2 separate regions of the Homo sapiens genome follow, and region 1 is linked to region 2. The links come from fine-mapping of genetic effects on gene expression. A gene starts in region 2. The other region holds a variant in brackets. All regions are shown on one strand. Distances are from middle to middle. Region 1 overlaps MYO15B (myosin XVB). Region 2 holds the start of RECQL5 (RecQ like helicase 5).

What was found.
Region 1: its variant is fine-mapped to the expression of RECQL5 in pancreas (GTEx, PIP 0.92).

What each region holds. Positions count from the first base shown.
Region 1 is chr17:75,611,603-75,619,602 of GRCh38, forward strand. It overlaps MYO15B (myosin XVB), which reads left to right. Exons shown (of 64, transcript NM_001395058.1): 24 at 1-56; 25 at 284-414; 26 at 1,196-1,291; 27 at 1,372-1,607; 28 at 1,691-1,869; 29 at 2,103-2,175; 30 at 2,597-2,758; 31 at 2,981-3,081; 32 at 3,171-3,247; 33 at 3,359-3,440; 34 at 3,638-3,736; 35 at 3,901-3,998; 36 at 4,091-4,282; 37 at 4,467-4,545; 8 more. Among named protein-coding and RNA genes, the nearest start is that of SMIM5, 18 kb to the right of the region's middle. The variant T/C (reference allele first, on the strand shown) is at 4,140.
Region 2 is chr17:75,663,535-75,672,018 of GRCh38, forward strand. RECQL5 (RecQ like helicase 5) reads right to left here and starts at 3,620. Exons shown (of 20, transcript NM_004259.7): 1 at 3,510-3,620; 2 at 2,894-3,037; 3 at 1,517-1,638. The coding sequence starts at 3,023. It overlaps SAP30BP (SAP30 binding protein), which reads left to right and starts at 3,804. Exons shown (of 11, transcript NM_013260.8): 1 at 3,804-3,944; 2 at 4,982-5,091; 3 at 8,282-8,329. The coding sequence starts at 3,839. RefSeq lists enhancers at 2,745-3,944, 3,526-3,625, 3,796-4,045.

The DNA of each region.
Region 1 (8,000 bases), 52 kb before region 2:
GCTGGGGCGCTTGGAGATCCCGGCTGAGCTGGCCGTCATGCTGAAGACGGCGGAAAGTGAGTCTTGTTGGTGTCCTCTTGTTAGGACTCCTTCTCCAGTCCCTTTACTGTGGGGTGTGTCTGTCCCTTGTGGTTCCTCCCTCTGATGCTCCAGACTCCCCTGAGCTCATCACTTGGGTCCCTGTGGACAGGGGCTGATGGCTCGTGGTGAGGGATGGAGGTGGTCCCAGGGCCAGGTACCACACCTGGATGCTCCTGGGCTGCCTCCCGGTGCTTGTTCCCAGGCCATCGGGACGCCCTGGCTGGGAGCATCACCGAGTGCCTGCCGCCTGAGGTTCCTGCCCGGCCCAGCCTGACTCTCCCAGCAGACATTGACCTGTTCCCTTTCTCCAGCTTCGTCGCCATCGGCTTTCAGGTGGGCGCCCAGGCCTAAGCTCTTCCCGCTGGCCTCACCGCTCTGAGTTAGCACCTGCCTGACAGATGCTGCGTTTTTTTCCCCGCTGTCAGCTCTTGCCCTCCTTCCTCCCCAGCCTTTGGGGCTGTGAGTAGCGCTGAATTGCTCTGAAAATAACCGTTGAATGTAATTGTCTCACCATAGAGCGTTACTGGAGATAACAGTTGGTGTTATTGAATGGGAGACGTTATTTAGATCCACGATGCCACACCTTTGTTGTACCTGCGGTAGTGCCCTGCTTTTGAAGTCATGACCTTAAAGAATGTTTATTGACAAGGGAAATTGTCCAGACTTCAGCAGTAAATACAAATGCAGGTTCAAAACTGCACATACAGGTTGGACATGGTGGCTCATGCTTGTAATCCCAGCACTTTTGGGAGGCCGAGGTGGGTGGATCACCTGAGGTCAGGAGTTTGAGACCGGCCTGGCCAACATGGTGAAACCCCGTCTCTACTAAAAATACAAAAATTAGCCAGACATGCGCCTGTAGTCCCAGCTACTCAGGAGGCTGAGACAGGAGAATCACTTGAACCTGGGAGGTGGAGGCTGCAGTGAGCTGAGATTGTGCCACTGCACTCCAGCCTGGGCGACAGACAAGACTCTGCCTCAAAAAAAAAAAAAAGGCATTAAGATGCATTTCTGTCCAGCCCCTCTGCCTCTCCCGAGGTGCCTGCTCCGGTGGGGCTCCCCTGGGCTGTCTGATAGCTGGTGAGCATGGACTGAGCCCTCTCCTTCCTTGCAGGAACCGTCCCTGCCCAGGCCAGGGCAGCCACTGGCGAAGCCCCTAACCCAGCTGGATGGAGACAACCCTCAGCGTGCCCTGGACATCAACAAAGTGGTGAGTGACACATTGGAGAAGGGACAGGATAGGCGCCTGGGAGCCCCGCACGTCCTGTCCTTACCCGGCTGTGTCGGCAGATGCTGCGGCTCCTGGGGGACGGATCCCTGGAGTCCTGGCAGAGGCAGATCATGGGCGCATACCTGGTGCGGCAGGGGCAGTGCCGGCCAGGGCTGCGGAATGAGCTCTTTAGCCAGCTGGTGGCCCAGCTATGGCAGAACCCAGATGAACAGCAGAGCCAGCGTGGCTGGGCCCTCATGGCTGTTTTGCTCAGCGCCTTTCCCCCACTGCCTGTCCTACAGAAGCCACTGCTCAAGTAAGGGGCCTGGGAGGTGGGGACCTGGCAGGTGGGGTCGCTGGATCACCCTGCCTCCACTGCAGCCTGTGCCCGCCCTGCAGGTTCGTGTCTGACCAGGCCCCCAGGGGCATGGCAGCGCTGTGCCAGCACAAGCTGCTGGGGGCCTTGGAGCAGTCGCAGCTGGCCTCGGGGGCCACTCGGGCCCACCCCCCGACCCAGCTGGAGTGGCTGGCCGGATGGCGGCGGGGCCGCATGGCGCTGGATGTGTTCACCTTCAGCGGTGAGGGCTGCCTCTGGCTGAGGCCTCCCAGGCCTGAAGTGGGGCCAGCCCTACCCCTTTGCCCTCCCTGGAACCCCTTCCTGCCCCAGTCTTCCTGCTGCCCTGTCCTCAGTGACCCTGATCCCCCTCCCCTCTGTCCTGCTTTTGAAACTCTCATGGGGACAGCAGCCCCTTCCTGTCAGGGTGGACTCTGCTGTCCCTCACTCTTGCCCCCGCCCCCCATGCCCCTGCAGAGGAGTGCTACTCGGCCGAGGTGGAGTCTTGGACCACCGGGGAGCAGCTGGCTGGGTGGATCCTGCAGAGCAGGTATGGGGACCGGGGATGGGGGACAGTGTGGCCAAAGTGACCCTTGTCCTATACCCTCCTCCTTCTCCAAGCCCAGTCTCAGGGGCCGGGAGGAGAGGTGCCCCGGGGTGGGCAGGGGCCAGACTGCAGATGGCGATGGGGAGCCGGGGGCAGATTAGGAATGAGGGGCTTGGGAGCTCCCACGGCAGATTCTAACTCAGCAGGTCAGAAAAGAAATGCCCATGCTGGAGCCCTTGTGGAAGTGGAGGGCCGTGAGGTGAGGAGGGGAGCAGCCCCCACTGCTGAGCAAACCTGGGTCCCGGACCAGGCGGATCCAGGGCCACCCTCCCTTCCTCAGCCCCCTGCCCCCTTGGCCCACCCTGTGGTCCTTGCCCCCTTCTGGATGGCCGCCTGCCTCACTGACTGGTCCCCTCCCACCCAGAGGCCTGGAGGCGCCTCCCCGGGGCTGGTCTGTGTCACTGCACTCCAGGGACGCATGGCAGGACTTGGCTGGCTGCGACTTTGTGCTGGACCTGATCAGCCAGACTGAGGACCTGGGGGACCCAGCTCGCCCCCGCAGCTACCCCATCACTCCTCTTGGCTCGTAGGTGCCACCCAGCACCCCTCTCCCTGGCCTGCTCCTGCCGGGGAACCCCACAGCCACCCTGCCACACTCAGGGGTTTATAGGAGCTGCCACAGGCCCAGCCCTCCCACCCAGCCTCCTCCCAACCATGGGGTGACCCCCGCAGCAGCTTCTACCTCTTGCCCCAGCCTGGGTGACCCTCAGCCTTGGCCACCCCCTTAGCTGGATCCCGTTTCCTGCAGAGCCGAGGCCATTCCCCTTGCCCCTGGCATTCAGGCCCCCTCACTGCCCCCAGGACCCCCTCCAGGTCCAGCCCCAACGCTGCCCAGCAGGGACCACACAGGTAAGGCTGGAGTGGGCACATGGAGGTTGGCAGAGCATGGGAAGCCCCACGCCCCGGGCCATGGCTCCAACCCTCTCCCTGCCCCACAGGGGAGGTCCAGAGGTCAGGGAGCCTGGACGGCTTCCTGGACCAGATCTTCCAGCCAGTGATATCCTCCGGCCTCAGCGTGAGTCGGGCACAGCCCCCAAATGCCCCTGCCCCAACCCCCCGGGGCCTCTGCTGCCCCTTCCATTTTTCTCAGGGCTCTCACTCTGACCTGTGACCATTGTCCCTTTAGGATCTGGAACAAAGCTGGGCTCTGAGCAGCCGCATGAAGGGAGGGGGCGCCATTGGGCCCACACAGCAGGGCTACCCCATGGGTGAGTGAGGGGCTGATTCCTCACCCAGGGCCTCCGGGCCCGGCAGCATGGCAGGCATGGCCTGGGACCCCTCTGGCAGTGGCGATCGATGCCCTGGCCAGCACCCCGGTGCCCGATGCTCTTCTCTGTGCCTGGGGCTGGAGGGAGGTGGCATGTGGGCCCAGGCAGGGACTGACAGGGAGGGCGTGTTCCCTCAGTGTACCCAGGAATGATTCAGATGCCTGCATACCAGCCAGGCATGGTCCCTGCACCCATGCCCATGATGCCAGCAATGGGCACAGTCCCTGCCATGCCAGGTAAGTCTGGGCTGGGGGCACCAGAGTCCCTTCTCAGGAGAGCAGCCACCAGCTCTGGGACTGGAGGAGGGAGGGTCCTGCTAGGAGTCCCGAGTGCACAGTGGGCAGCGAGCTTCAAGGCTGGCCATGGTGCCCACCACTCTGGCCGCCTGCCGCCCTCACAGCCATGGTGGTGCCGCCGCAGCCACCGCTTCCCAGCCTGGATGCAGGGCAGCTGGCCGTCCAGCAGCAGAACTTTATCCAGCAGCAGGCGCTAATCCTGGTGAGCGCTGGCAGGGCCCTGGGGCCACCTGGTGGAGGAGAGGTCTGTGGCTCGGGGATGAGGGTCTGAACTGGCTGCTCCTCCTGCTTCAGGCCCAGCAGATGACAGCCCAGGCCATGTCCCTGTCCCTGGAGCAGCAGA[T/C]GCAGCAGCGGCAGCAGCAGGCTCGGGCCTCCGAGGCTGCGTCCCAGGCCTCACCCTCAGCCGTCACCTCCAAGCCCAGGAAGCCCCCCACACCCCCGGAGAAGCCACAGCGTGACCTGGGATCAGAGGGTGGCTGCCTGAGGGTGAGGAGGTGACCATATTCTCAGGAAGGGATGTGAGGGTGGGGACTGCAGGGGCAGGGGACATGGGCAGGGTGAGTAGGCAGACACAGGGAAGAGGCTGCTGGCCCAGGACTGGGGACCCGAGGGGTGTGGCGAGTGTGGCACCCAGGCTGGCTGAGCTGCCACTCATTTCTGCTTCTGCCAGGAGACCTCCGAGGAGGCTGAAGACAGGCCCTATCAGCCCAAGAGCTTCCAGCAGAAACGGAACTATTTCCAGAGGATGGGTGAGGGCACTTGGGGTGGCAGGACCGTGCAGAAACATGGCCAGTGCCCCTGGCCCGGGCCAGGGAGGGTGGGGTGTGCTCTGCTCCCCGGAGTTGGTGCGGCCCATCCAGGAGCCCAGCTGGGCCAGTATGGGTAACTTTGAAGGCCATCTGGACACTTGCAGGGCAGCCACAGATCACAGTGAGGACGATGAAGCCCCCGGCCAAGGTCCACATCCCCCAGGGGGAAGCGCAGGAGGAGGAGGAGGAGGAGGAGGAGGAGGAGGAGCAGGAGGAGCAAGAAGTGGAAACAAGAGCAGGTTGTGGGGAGCTGGGCAGGGCCTGGGGCTCCGGTGGCTCTGCACGCGGTTAACAGTCTTTCCTGTTTCCTGGTCAGTGCCGTCCCCTCCTCCTCCCCCCATCGTGAAGAAGCCATTGAAGCAAGGTGGGGCCAAAGCTCCAAAAGAGGCTGAGGCTGAGCCAGCCAAGGAGACAGCGGCCAAGGGCCATGGCCAAGGGCCAGCCCAAGGCAGGGGGACTGTGGTGCGCAGCTCAGACTCCAAGCCCAAGCGGCCACAACCCAGCAGGGAAATTGGCAACATCATCCGCATGTACCAGAGCCGCCCGGGCCCCGTGCCTGTGCCCGTGCAGCCATCCAGGTGGGCCCCCACGGGGAGGTGGCCAGGGCTGTCCCGCTCCTCGGGGAATCACCCTATGAACTTAGTGACCTCTTGCTTCTCCCACGAGGCCTCCCAAAGCTTTCCTGAGGAAAATCGACCCCAAGGACGAGGCTCTGGCCAAGCTGGGTATCAACGGTGCCCACTCGTCCCCGCCGGTGAGCACCCCAGCCTGTCTCCCCCAGAGTGTGTGCTGCTGCACTGGGGAGCTCAAGGCTCTCTGGGGCGAACTTGGCCTTGTGCTGTGACTCAGCCCGTGTACTTTCTCCGTATCCCCCCAGATGCTGTCCCCCAGCCCAGGAAAGGGCCCCCCGCCAGCTGTGGCTCCTCGACCCAAGGCCCCGCTACAGCTTGGGCCCTCTAGCTCCATCAAGGAAAAGCAGGGGCCCCTTCTGGACCTGTTTGGCCAGAAGCTGCCTATTGCCCACACACCCCCACCTCCACCAGCGCCACCACTGCCTCTGCCCGAGGACCCAGGGACCCTTTCAGCAGAGCGTCGTTGTAAGGAACCACATTTCTCCTGCGCCGTGGGCTTCACTGGGGCAGAGGCAGGGTTCGCACAGACTCTCGGTGCCCAGGGCTGAAGGCATTTCTGCGTGGCTGAGGCCAGCTGTTCGGGCTTCTGGACTTTGGAGCCATACGTAGCTGGGGAGTCCCAGCTTCCGCGTTCCCACCCAGGGCAGGGCCTGGGCATCTTTGGGGCTGTCATCGAGAGGCTGTCACACACAGGGTGTTGTCCCTGACACATACCCGACAGCTCTGTGAGGAAGTTAGTGGCCCTGGCTGACATGGTCATAGAAGACCCACGAGCCTCACGGACGCCAGGGAAAGTTTAGGGCCCAAAATGGAGGCAGGAGATGGTGCCATGGAAGGAGTAAGGCAGCTGGAGGTTGGGAGAGCCGGGCCCTTGGAAGGCTCGTGGGGATGAAGGTCTTCCCTCCCGTGCCCCCATCACTCTGGCTCTGCAGCCCCTCACTGAGGCTCCTCACCCCCTCCTCTCTGCCAGGCTTGACACAGCCCGTGGAGGACCAGGGGGTCTCCACCCAGCTACTCGCGCCCTCTGGCAGCGTGTGCTTCTCCTACACCGGCACGCCCTGGAAGTTGTTCCTACGCAAGGAGGTGGGCATGAGGGTGGGGCCTTGGCCTGGCCTCTTTGGGCTGGCAGGGAGGCGGCAGGCTTTGTGCATCCCAGCCTGGGACCCCAGCATCCCCTCCCCACAGCCCACCATCTCAAGGCTGATTTTCCAGGCCTGGGAGGGCAGAGGCTTGCTGGGAAGAGGCACCAGACCCACCGATCTTTGCCCTTCTGTGCCCTCCTCCAGGTGTTCTACCCACGGGAGAACTTCAGCCATCCCTACTACCTGAGGCTCCTCTGTGAGCAGGTGAGAGCTGGCCCACCTGCCAGCCTGAGACATCTGCAGAGACAGCATCCTTCGTGCCCTTTGTCTAATGGCTGGGCCAGGTTAACACCACGTAGGGCATGTTGGCAGCCAGCACTGGGGGGCACTTCTGTGTGCCCAGACCTGCCTTCATTGAACCTTCACAACATTCCTGAGAAGTAGGGACCATGGCCAGGTGCGGTGGCTCATGCCTGTAATCCCAGCACTTTGGGAGGCCAAGGCAGGTGGATCATGAGGTCAGGAGTTCGAGACCAGTCTGGCCAACATGGTGAAACTCCATGTCTATTAAAAATACAAAAATCAGGCGTGGTGGCACGCACCTGTAACCCCAGCTACTTGGGAGGCTGAGGCAGGAGAATTGCTTGAACCCGGGAGGCAGAGGTTGTAGTGAGCCGAGATTGTGCCACTGCACTCCCGCCTGGGTGACAGAGCGAGACTGTGTCTCAACAACAACAAGAAGTAGGGACCATTATTCATCTAGTTTTATAGATAAAGTTTAAAAGCAAAGTGCGTACAGTGCACAACACAGGCTCTAGCACACAGTAGGTACTTAATAAATGGTTGTCACTTTGCCACCTCTGAACGCTCCCAGGAGTGAGCCTCTGTTCCCCCTAATTCTGCAGTAGCACCTGCCCCCTGCCCCGAACAATCTTGTATCTGGGCTGATCCAAGGGCAGTTACCACGGGGTCTCTGGGCAGTGAGTGAAAAGGGAGGGCTGGCAGTTGCAGGGGAGGGGACAGGTGAGACGTGTGAATGGAGGTGGCCCAAGCCCTCCATCCCTCCCTGCCCCACCTAGGCCCTCTGCTGAGCACACAGGCCATGGGGGCCAGGGCGCCCTCCATCGGCCTCCTCAGGTTTTCCTTCATGCATGTGGATGGCTGCTCTGGGGGTGGGCTCTGTCTCAGGACCTGGTGGTGACCACCTCGCTCTGCCCCCAGATCCTACGGGACACCTTCTCCGAGTCCTGTATCCGGATTTCCCAGAATGAGCGGCGGAAAATGAAAGACCTGCTGGGTATGGGTCCAGGGACCATGGAGTTGGGAGCTTGAGTGCTGGGGGCCGCGCCTGCCCTGAAGGAGGGAGCAGCATGGGAGCAAACTCTAGAGCCCCCTCTGTGTGAGCAGAGGGCAGCCTGGGTCCTTCCTGCCCACAGGAGGCTTGGAGGTGGACCTGGATTCTCTCACCACCACCGAAGACAGCGTCAAGAAGCGCATCGTGGTGGCCGCTCGGGACAACTGGGCCAATTACTTCTCCCGCTTCTTTCCTGTCTCGGTCAGTGGCGCTGGGGTAGGGAGTAGGGATGCCAGGCCCCCAGCCTGGATCCTGGGGTGCATGGGCACAGACCACAAGCAGGAGAGCCGGGGAGCAGACGCCAGGGGAAGGACAAAGCCCAGCCAC
Region 2 (8,484 bases):
AGCATTTCAGATTTCAGATTTTTGCTTTAGGGATGCTCAATCTCTATGGAAGGTGAAGTGGTTTAGAGCACAGGCTCTGAAGTCAGACAGACTTCAGATTTAGATTTCATCCTGGCTCACTTAATCGCCACATGCTCGCTGGCTGTTTCTTACCCTCTGAACGATTTATACAATTCTATCTAATAGCATTGTTGTATAACTTAAAATTTACATCTGAGAGGTGAAATTAACGTATGTAAGCCGGGCGCGGTGGCTCACACCTGTAATTCCAGCGCTTTGAGAGGCTGAGGCGGGCAGATCACCTGAGGTCAGGAGTTCGAGATCAGACTGACCAATATGGTGAAACCCTGTCTCTACTAAAAATACAAAATTAGCCAGGCATGGTGGCGCATGCCTGTAATCCCAGCTACTCGGGGGACTGAGGCAGGAGAACTGCTTGAACCCGGGAGGCGGAGGTTGCGGTGAGCCGAGAACACGCCATTGCACTCAAGCCCGGGCAACAAGAGCGAAACTCCATCTCAAAAAAAAAAAAAAAAAAAGAAAGAAAGAAATTAATGTATGTAAAGCACTTAGCACGAAGCCTGGGACCTGGTGAACATTCACCAAGTTATTACTGTAGTTCCCTCTCTACCTTCCTTCATGGTGGATGGCTCTTACCCACACAGCCACACTTCCTCAATTCTGATTCTATCAGCCCATCTGCAGGCCTTAAATAGTCAGAACACCTGTAGAGCAGATGTTAATAAGGTCCCAGACAGTTTCTCATCTTTTTTTCTGTTTCACATACTGTGCCCTTACCAAAATAAGCAGGACACCAGGGATTCCCCATATCAACTTAGCTATCTATCCATCTGCAACTTCTGTCTCAACATCACGAGTGCACGTGTGTGTATACATGAGACTGAGTGTATATGTGTGTACAAATACAGTTTCATACTCCTCTGAACAAAAAAATAACAAAGGAGGGTGAGGGACCTCAGAGGAGTCATTCATAACCTCCCAGAGTGATATGCACCAGTGGAGAACACTACATTGGGGAAATACAGAAACCCAATATAGCGAATGAGATAGGCAAATCATAGAAAATAAGAGGCAGGGGCGGGTGTGGTGGCTCACACCTGTAATCCCAGCACTTTGGGAGGCCGAGGTGGGCGGATCATTTGAGGTCAGGAGTTTGAGACCAGCCTGGCCAACATGGTGAAACCTCATCTCTACTAAAAATACAAAAATTAGCCGGGTATGGTGGCATACACCTGTAATCCCAGCTATATGGGGGGCTGAGGCACAAGAATTGCTGGAAGCCGGGAGGTGGAGGCTGCAGTGAGCCAAGATCGCACCACCGCACTTCAGCCTAGGCGACAGAGTAAGACTCTGTCTCAAAAAAAAAAAAAAAAAAGGAAAAAGAAAAAGAAAAGAAAATAAGAGGCAAAAGACCAATAGAGAAGTGAAATTTCCAGCCTCAAAAAACCTTCCCCGAATCTTTTTGGGCTACCATCTTCATTGCCCTAAGCCTCACCTGAATCAAAGCAATGAGAGGAGAGACTACAATGGTGATGCCTTTGGCCAACAGAGCAGGGAGCTGATAGCATAGGGATTTTCCTGCCCCTGTGGGCATGCACACAAAGACGTCCTTGTTACCTGAAAAAATACAAGACAACAATATCTCAGTGCTTCCTGCCTTTTCATTGAAGTTGTTGAAAATTAAATGAGAATGTAGGAAAAGCACCTAGCAGAGTGTCTGGCACATGGGAGGGTCTCGATGTAATCCTAATTCCCCTCCTGTCCTTTCTATGAAAAAGGCAAGGATCCTGGGAAACTTGGATACATGCCCAAACCATTTCTAGTAATGGTTAAAAACAAGATTTAAAAAGTCTGGGTCAAGCGCAGTGGCTCACGCCTGTAATCCCAGCACTTTGGGAGGCTAAGGCAGGCAGATCACGAGGGCAAGAGTTTGAGACCAGCCTGGCCAACATGGTGAAACTCTGTCTCTACTAAGAATACAAAAATTACCCAGGCATGGTGGCACGTGCCTGTAATCCCAGCTACTCAGGAGGCTGAAGCAGGAGAATTGCTTGAACCCAGGAGGCGGAGGTTGCAGTGAGCCGAGATCGCGCCACTGCACTCCAGTGTGGGCGACAGAGCAAGACTCTGTTTCAAAAAAAAAAAAAAAAAAAAAGAAGTCTGAGTCTGCTGTGATATGGATGATTGAACTAAACAGCCATGAAAGCAGAGTACTGCTAGATGAGTGGGTACATCTGTGTAGACATGAGAGGACATTACTTAGAGGGCTTTTGTTTAGACATGTATCATTAATATTACATTGCTGCTCGCCTCTTGGCAACTTCCATTTGTCACCGTATCTCAGGTTTATAACATTATTACTCTTTCCTTCTCTATCTGGGACCAAGGCCACTCAACCTGCAACAAGGGAATTACCTAGGAGGCCAGTGACCGAGTTAAGTTATTCCTACCACCCTCACTGTTGCTGTTCGTTTGTGTGTACAAACGAACAATAATGAGAATCTGAAGTGTTTTCAAAGACCATGTGTAAATCTAGCTATGAAATATAGACCAGCTGGGTGGTTCTGCCACTAAAACTACAAGCTTTGGGCCGGGCGTGGTGGCTCATGCTTGTAATCCCAGCACCTTGGGAGGCCGAGGTGGGAGGATTGCCTGAGCCCAGGATTTGGAGACCAGCCTGAGCAACATGCCAAGACCCCATCTCTAATTAAAACAAATAAACGAAACTACAAGCTTTGACAACTCTAAAGATTTCCAAATCCAGTTATGGACCAAAGGTGAGGCAGTACGAAGGGTGAGGAGGAGGGTGTTCTGCCGCAGCGTTATGGTATAGCCAGCATAAATTTAAAGGAAGGTAGCTTGGTAATGTTACCTTTTACTACAGCCATGGTCGCACTCTCCTGTAAAGGCGTCTTAAAAGAGTCAAACCCAAAGACCTTCTTCAGCGTACTCCGGACTCGCCGCTCAGGGTCAAAAGGAAAGGTGGTATGGTGGCTGCTCATCTTAGCCAAGAACAGTGGCCAAAGGTTAAGGCAAAGGTAGTAAAAGGTTGCCACGAGAACCCTCTGTTTTGCATTAAAAATACAGATTATTTTTCTGTAACAATTTGCTATATTACACTTAAATAATGTATTATTTTTAAGTAATAAAGCTGAAGGTGAACTGCCTCAAGCAATACATTCCTCAGTAATTAACATCTCCACTTTTACGCTCAATGAAAATGAAAACATTGAACTATTCCAGGCCACGGTATAGCACAGAGCTAGAAATCAGATCAAGAGAAGAAACATAAATGTCTTCAGAACAGCTTGGAGAACGGGGAACCGTTTTCCTAAGATCCACCACCTGCTCCTACTTCTATAAGCGCAACCACGACGACCGTTCTTCCACCCCGGGACCCCGAACCCCTTCTCCCGTCTTCCTGAGCCCAAGATCCGCAATTTTCTCTCTTGGCTGGCCGACACCTCCCTCTCTTCACCCTAAGATATCAGAACCGGCCGTGGTCCGCCCAAGAATTAAAGGCTGCTGGCTGGTTCCGGAACTGTTCGAAGACCCCTATACACAACCCCAACTCAGAGAAGCCAAAGCGCTGGGAATTCAGCTTTAGGCAGAACCCACGCAATCTTATATCCGTCGCGCAGTGATGACGTAGCGCGAGCGCTGGCATGAGGGCGGAGCCAGGCGCAGGAAACTGCCGTTTTGATTGGTTTCCAGTGTGGCGCGGGGGTCTCCTGGGATCCGAAAGAACCTGCCTTTCCGCCCGGAAGTCGGCGTCTTGAGTCATAGGAGTGAGCCACGCCCGGGCTGTGGGAATAAGATGGCGGGGAAGAAGAATGTTCTGTCGTCTCTCGCAGTTTACGCGGAAGATTCAGAGCCCGAGTCTGATGGCGAGGCTGGAATCGAGGCGGTGGGCAGCGCGGCTGGTAAGGCCCAAGTGCGAAGCTGGAAGGGGGAATCGGGTGTCTGCCCGGAATGCTGTACCCTCGCTGGGCGGGAGGGAACAAGATGGTCATTGTGCTCCAAGCACCGGACCCCGAAGAATGGTCCAGGGTCCGGGGTGAGATAGAGCATTAGAGACTGTGGACTAAGAATGAAGAATCTCCTTCCCGTTATTTCGATTAATTTGCCTAAACTTACTGAAAGACTCCGTGCCGGCTATAGTGATAGACAGAGGGATGGACGAAGAGGGAGCGGCTGCTCAGCCACTGCCTGTTTCCCCTGGGCTCGTTGTTTGATGAGGGAGAGCGATAAGTAAAACATACGTGGAAGATGGTAAAGATTGTGTTCGTTAACTTTATAACTTTTAGTTAGGAATGTGCCCTAAACACATCTTGGAGCTTTTAAAAACAAACGTATCTGATGCCCAAAGTGAGAGAACCTAATTCGGTAGAACTGGGGTAGGATGTGGGCATTTGTGAACTTTTTAAGGATCCCAGGTGATTTTTCTTATTTTGTGAGTTTTTAAAGCCTAACGGTGATGTTCTCCTCCTCAGGTTGAGAAGCACAATGTTAGATAATGGAAACAGATTCCTTTGGGAGAATAAAGAACAAGTTACCTAACAACATATCAGGACCTTAGCTTCCTCATCTGGAAAGTGAAGGGGATTGGATTAGGTTAGGTACTTCCATGTTTTGTGATTTTGTGTGGTCTCTTCCAGTCAGAAAGTTCTCTGATGGTTTCCTATAAACACTTTAGTGTTTATCTAGTGTTTATAGCATTAGAAACAGAATTTAGTACTCGGTTTTGTTCCCTGACCTTTTAATGATTTTATTCAGTAAATGCTGGCCTTCTCAGAGAGCCGAATCTGGGCCTATTGTAACTTAACATGAGATTTAGGTTCCCTTTGTATCTTCAGAGATAGTCTTGGCCACTCAAATCTCTGGACATTTTTTCTTACATTGTAACTCTTGTTTTTTTTTTCTTGCTTTTTGTTTGTTTGTTTGTTTTTTAACCTTTCAGAGGAGAAAGGCGGATTGGTATCTGATGCCTATGGGGAGGATGACTTTTCTCGTCTAGGGGGTGATGAAGATGGTTATGAAGAAGAAGAAGATGAGAACAGTAGACAGTCGGTAGGTAAATCTCCCAGATCCAGAGCTACTGAAAGCACAATTTCATTTGTCAGATTTTGGAACTGTGCCAACAGTGTTCCATTTCATGGTTAGCTCCATCCCTTGCTCTCCCGTTTTGTTTTAGTATTAGTGGAAGAAACTGGATTGGATATCAGATCTGTTTGAAAATGTATTTTCACATGGATCATTTTTTATTAATCTTTGAATTGAAATTTGGGGGAAAAGATAGTGGATTATTTTATTTAACCCAGATATCAATGGGTGTTTTATGTTGATTTTTCCCTGTTTAAATGATTTACTCCATTTATAGCAGGCATTCATCCTAACTGGTGTATCATTTATATCTACAGTCAACTCTGCATTATTTTTAATCTTGGTTGGGGCTCATTTAAGTCTTCTCAGTTTATTAACAAGATAAGAAAGGAAAATTCGTTTTCACCTGCTTTTTCTTTTCTTTTTTTTTTTTGAGATAGGGTCTCACTCTGCTGTCCAGATTGGAGTGCAGTGGTGTGATCATAGATAGTTCACTACAGTCTTGAACTCCTGGGCGCAAGTGATCCTCCCACCTCAGCCTACCCAGTAGCTGGGACTACAGGTGGGCGCCACCATGCCTAGCTAACCTATTATTATTTTTTTTTGTCGGAATCTTGCTCTGTCGCCCATGCTGGAGTGCAGTGGTGCGATCTCTGCTCACTGCAACCTCCACCTCCCAGGTTCAAGCAATTCTCCTGCCCTCAGCCTCCTGAGTAGCTGGGATTACAGACACCTGCCATCACGCCTGGCTAATTTTTGTATTTTTCACAGAGACGGTTTCACCATGTTGGCCATTCTGGTCTCTAACTCCTGACCTCAGGTGATCCACCCGCCTCATCCTTCCAAAGTGCTGGGATTACAGGCGTGAGCCACTGCTCCTGGCCGATTTTTAAAATTTAAAAAAAAATTTTTTGTAGAGACGTTGTTTCACTATGTTTCCCAGTCTGGTTTCAAACTTCTGGCCTCAAGCAATTCCCCTGCCTCACCCTCCCAAAGTGCTGGGATTACAGGTATGAGCCACCATCCCTGGCCTTCTTAACTTCTTTCTTGACATTTTATTTGGCACTTTTTATAATGGTGCCCTTAGTTCTTGATCACAAATCTTGCCTGAAGTTCAGTAGGTGCTGGAGAAAGGAGAACCTGTGCTATTATTAACAAGAAAGTCTTTAGACACATAATCACCTGAGCAACATGAGCCAGAATTTAAGTTTGCAGAAAACGCAAGGAAATTGAAGTTGGTGCTTAGCATAAGACAGGCAGAGTTGAGTCTAGATGTCAAATCTGACTGCTTAGCAAGTTTTAATTAAATCACTTAAAATATATTATTTGTTTGAAATTTTTGTTACATGTTGGTATGTAAATGTTAGCATTAAAATTCTTTCCAGCCAAGCACGGTGGCTCATGCCTGTAATCCCAGCACTTTGGGAGGCTGAGGTGGGCGGATCACAAGGTCAGGAGATCAAGACCATCTTGGCCAACATGGTGAAACCCCATCTCTACTAAAAATACAATAATTAGCAGGGCATGGTGGTACGCACCTGTAGTCCCACCTACTCGGGAGGCTGAGGCAGGAGAATCGCTTGAACCCGGGAGGCGGAGGTTGCAGTGAGCCGAGATCACGCCACTGCACTCCAGCCTGGGCAACAGAGCCAGACTCCATCTTAAAAAAAAAAAAAATTATTTCCACAACAAACAGAAATGCGTTTTGTACATGATGCATTTTGGGAGATACTTTCATGCCTTTAGCCCCATCCATTAATATTGATAATTCAGAGTTGACTGAAATTATTCAGAAAAGTTTTGCAAGTTGTTTTCTGACTTTTCTGAAGTACACACATTCTGGCTTAATATTCATAACTCTTTTCTTTAGTACGTTTGCATAATGTGTTTTTGAAGTGTTATTTCATATTTGCTTTGCTTAGAATTTTCATCATGTTTAAGCTTCATTTCATATTTTAGTAAAATCCTCTCATCAGATCTTGTTGTAGAGATTCTGAAATGTGATTGTATTTGTCTGAGCTCCATCTCTGTTTATTTGGCATGACTGATTTCATTTTAAGGAGATTATGGAGATTGCATTTAAAGCCTTGGACTCACTGGTACCTTACAGGACAGTTAAGTCTCCAAATCATGAGTCTAGTTTGTTCAAGTCTCTCGAGTGGTATTTATATTAATATATGGAGTGCTGTGTAATGTTTGGGCTGAAATGTAGCTTTGTTGAAAATAGTAGTTTCAAATGAAACCATTTTTTCCTGGGTATTTAGTTAAAGGCTTCTGTGCATTGGGAGTGTTCTGGGTAGTGGAGGTGACATGGATTTAGCCAGCTAATAAGGTAGCTGGTCCAGCATCTGCTCCTGATCTTTGACCTTCATAGCATCAGCGTTAGCGTTCAGTGGAATGGCGGGCTCGCTTTGGAGAATGCCTTACCGTGTGTGATCCTTTGTGTCAGGCTGACCTCATCTGGATAAGGAACAGGACTGGGTAGAATGGATCACTGGCAGTTCTGTGAGCACTTAGGTGGAGGCAGAGCCCACTCAACTGGGACTCCTGAAAGGTTGGGCATTGCCCTTTAGTCCTGCCTTTCCCAGGTCACTTGCTCAGGTAGTTTGATGCCTGCCTTCCTGTGTTGATGTTTGTGCAAATGCCGGTTGAGGTGCTGCGATACAGCTGTGTGTAAGCCTTGGCACTTGGTGTTGGACACTGTTAGAGTAGGTCCGAGTCTGATGTACATGTGTATATGAAAAGGAAAGAAGGCTCATAATCCTGATTTGAAATAACTGATACTTCAGTGGAAACACGATGCCTGTTTTATTGTGTGGCCTGATCTTACTCTTTCCTAAAACATATTGCAAGCTTTCTCCATTTTTATGTATGTGACTTTGAACTCGGGCATCTTCATTGATGTGGACTGTCTCACCACTAAAGTAACTTGACTTTGAGCTGCTGATGCTTTTTTGTTTTTTGTTTTTTTCCCCTCCAGAATATCTCTTTTTCCCCTTATTTTTCTCTGGTTCTGAGTTATATGGTAGGGGAGGGATTCTTGGTGGGATGACCCCAGCTGGGTAAATGGGCTGTTTGCTCCGGCCCCTAGTTATGCATGTGAGACTCCTCAGGCCCGCTCCTTTAAGCTTAATCCTCTAAATTCTTTGTCTTGTAGGAAGATGACGATTCAGAGACTGAAAAACCTGAGGCTGATGACCCAAAGGTATTTGGTGTTGGCTGTGGTGGGTGGCTGGATGCAAACAAGGTGTTTGAACACTGTGGCTCAGTTCGTATGTTTGGTCAAGATCTGTCCCACTGACAAACTGTGCAACTGTGTGGACATTTTCTGGGATAAAATAAGCTTTATAAAGAAAGAAC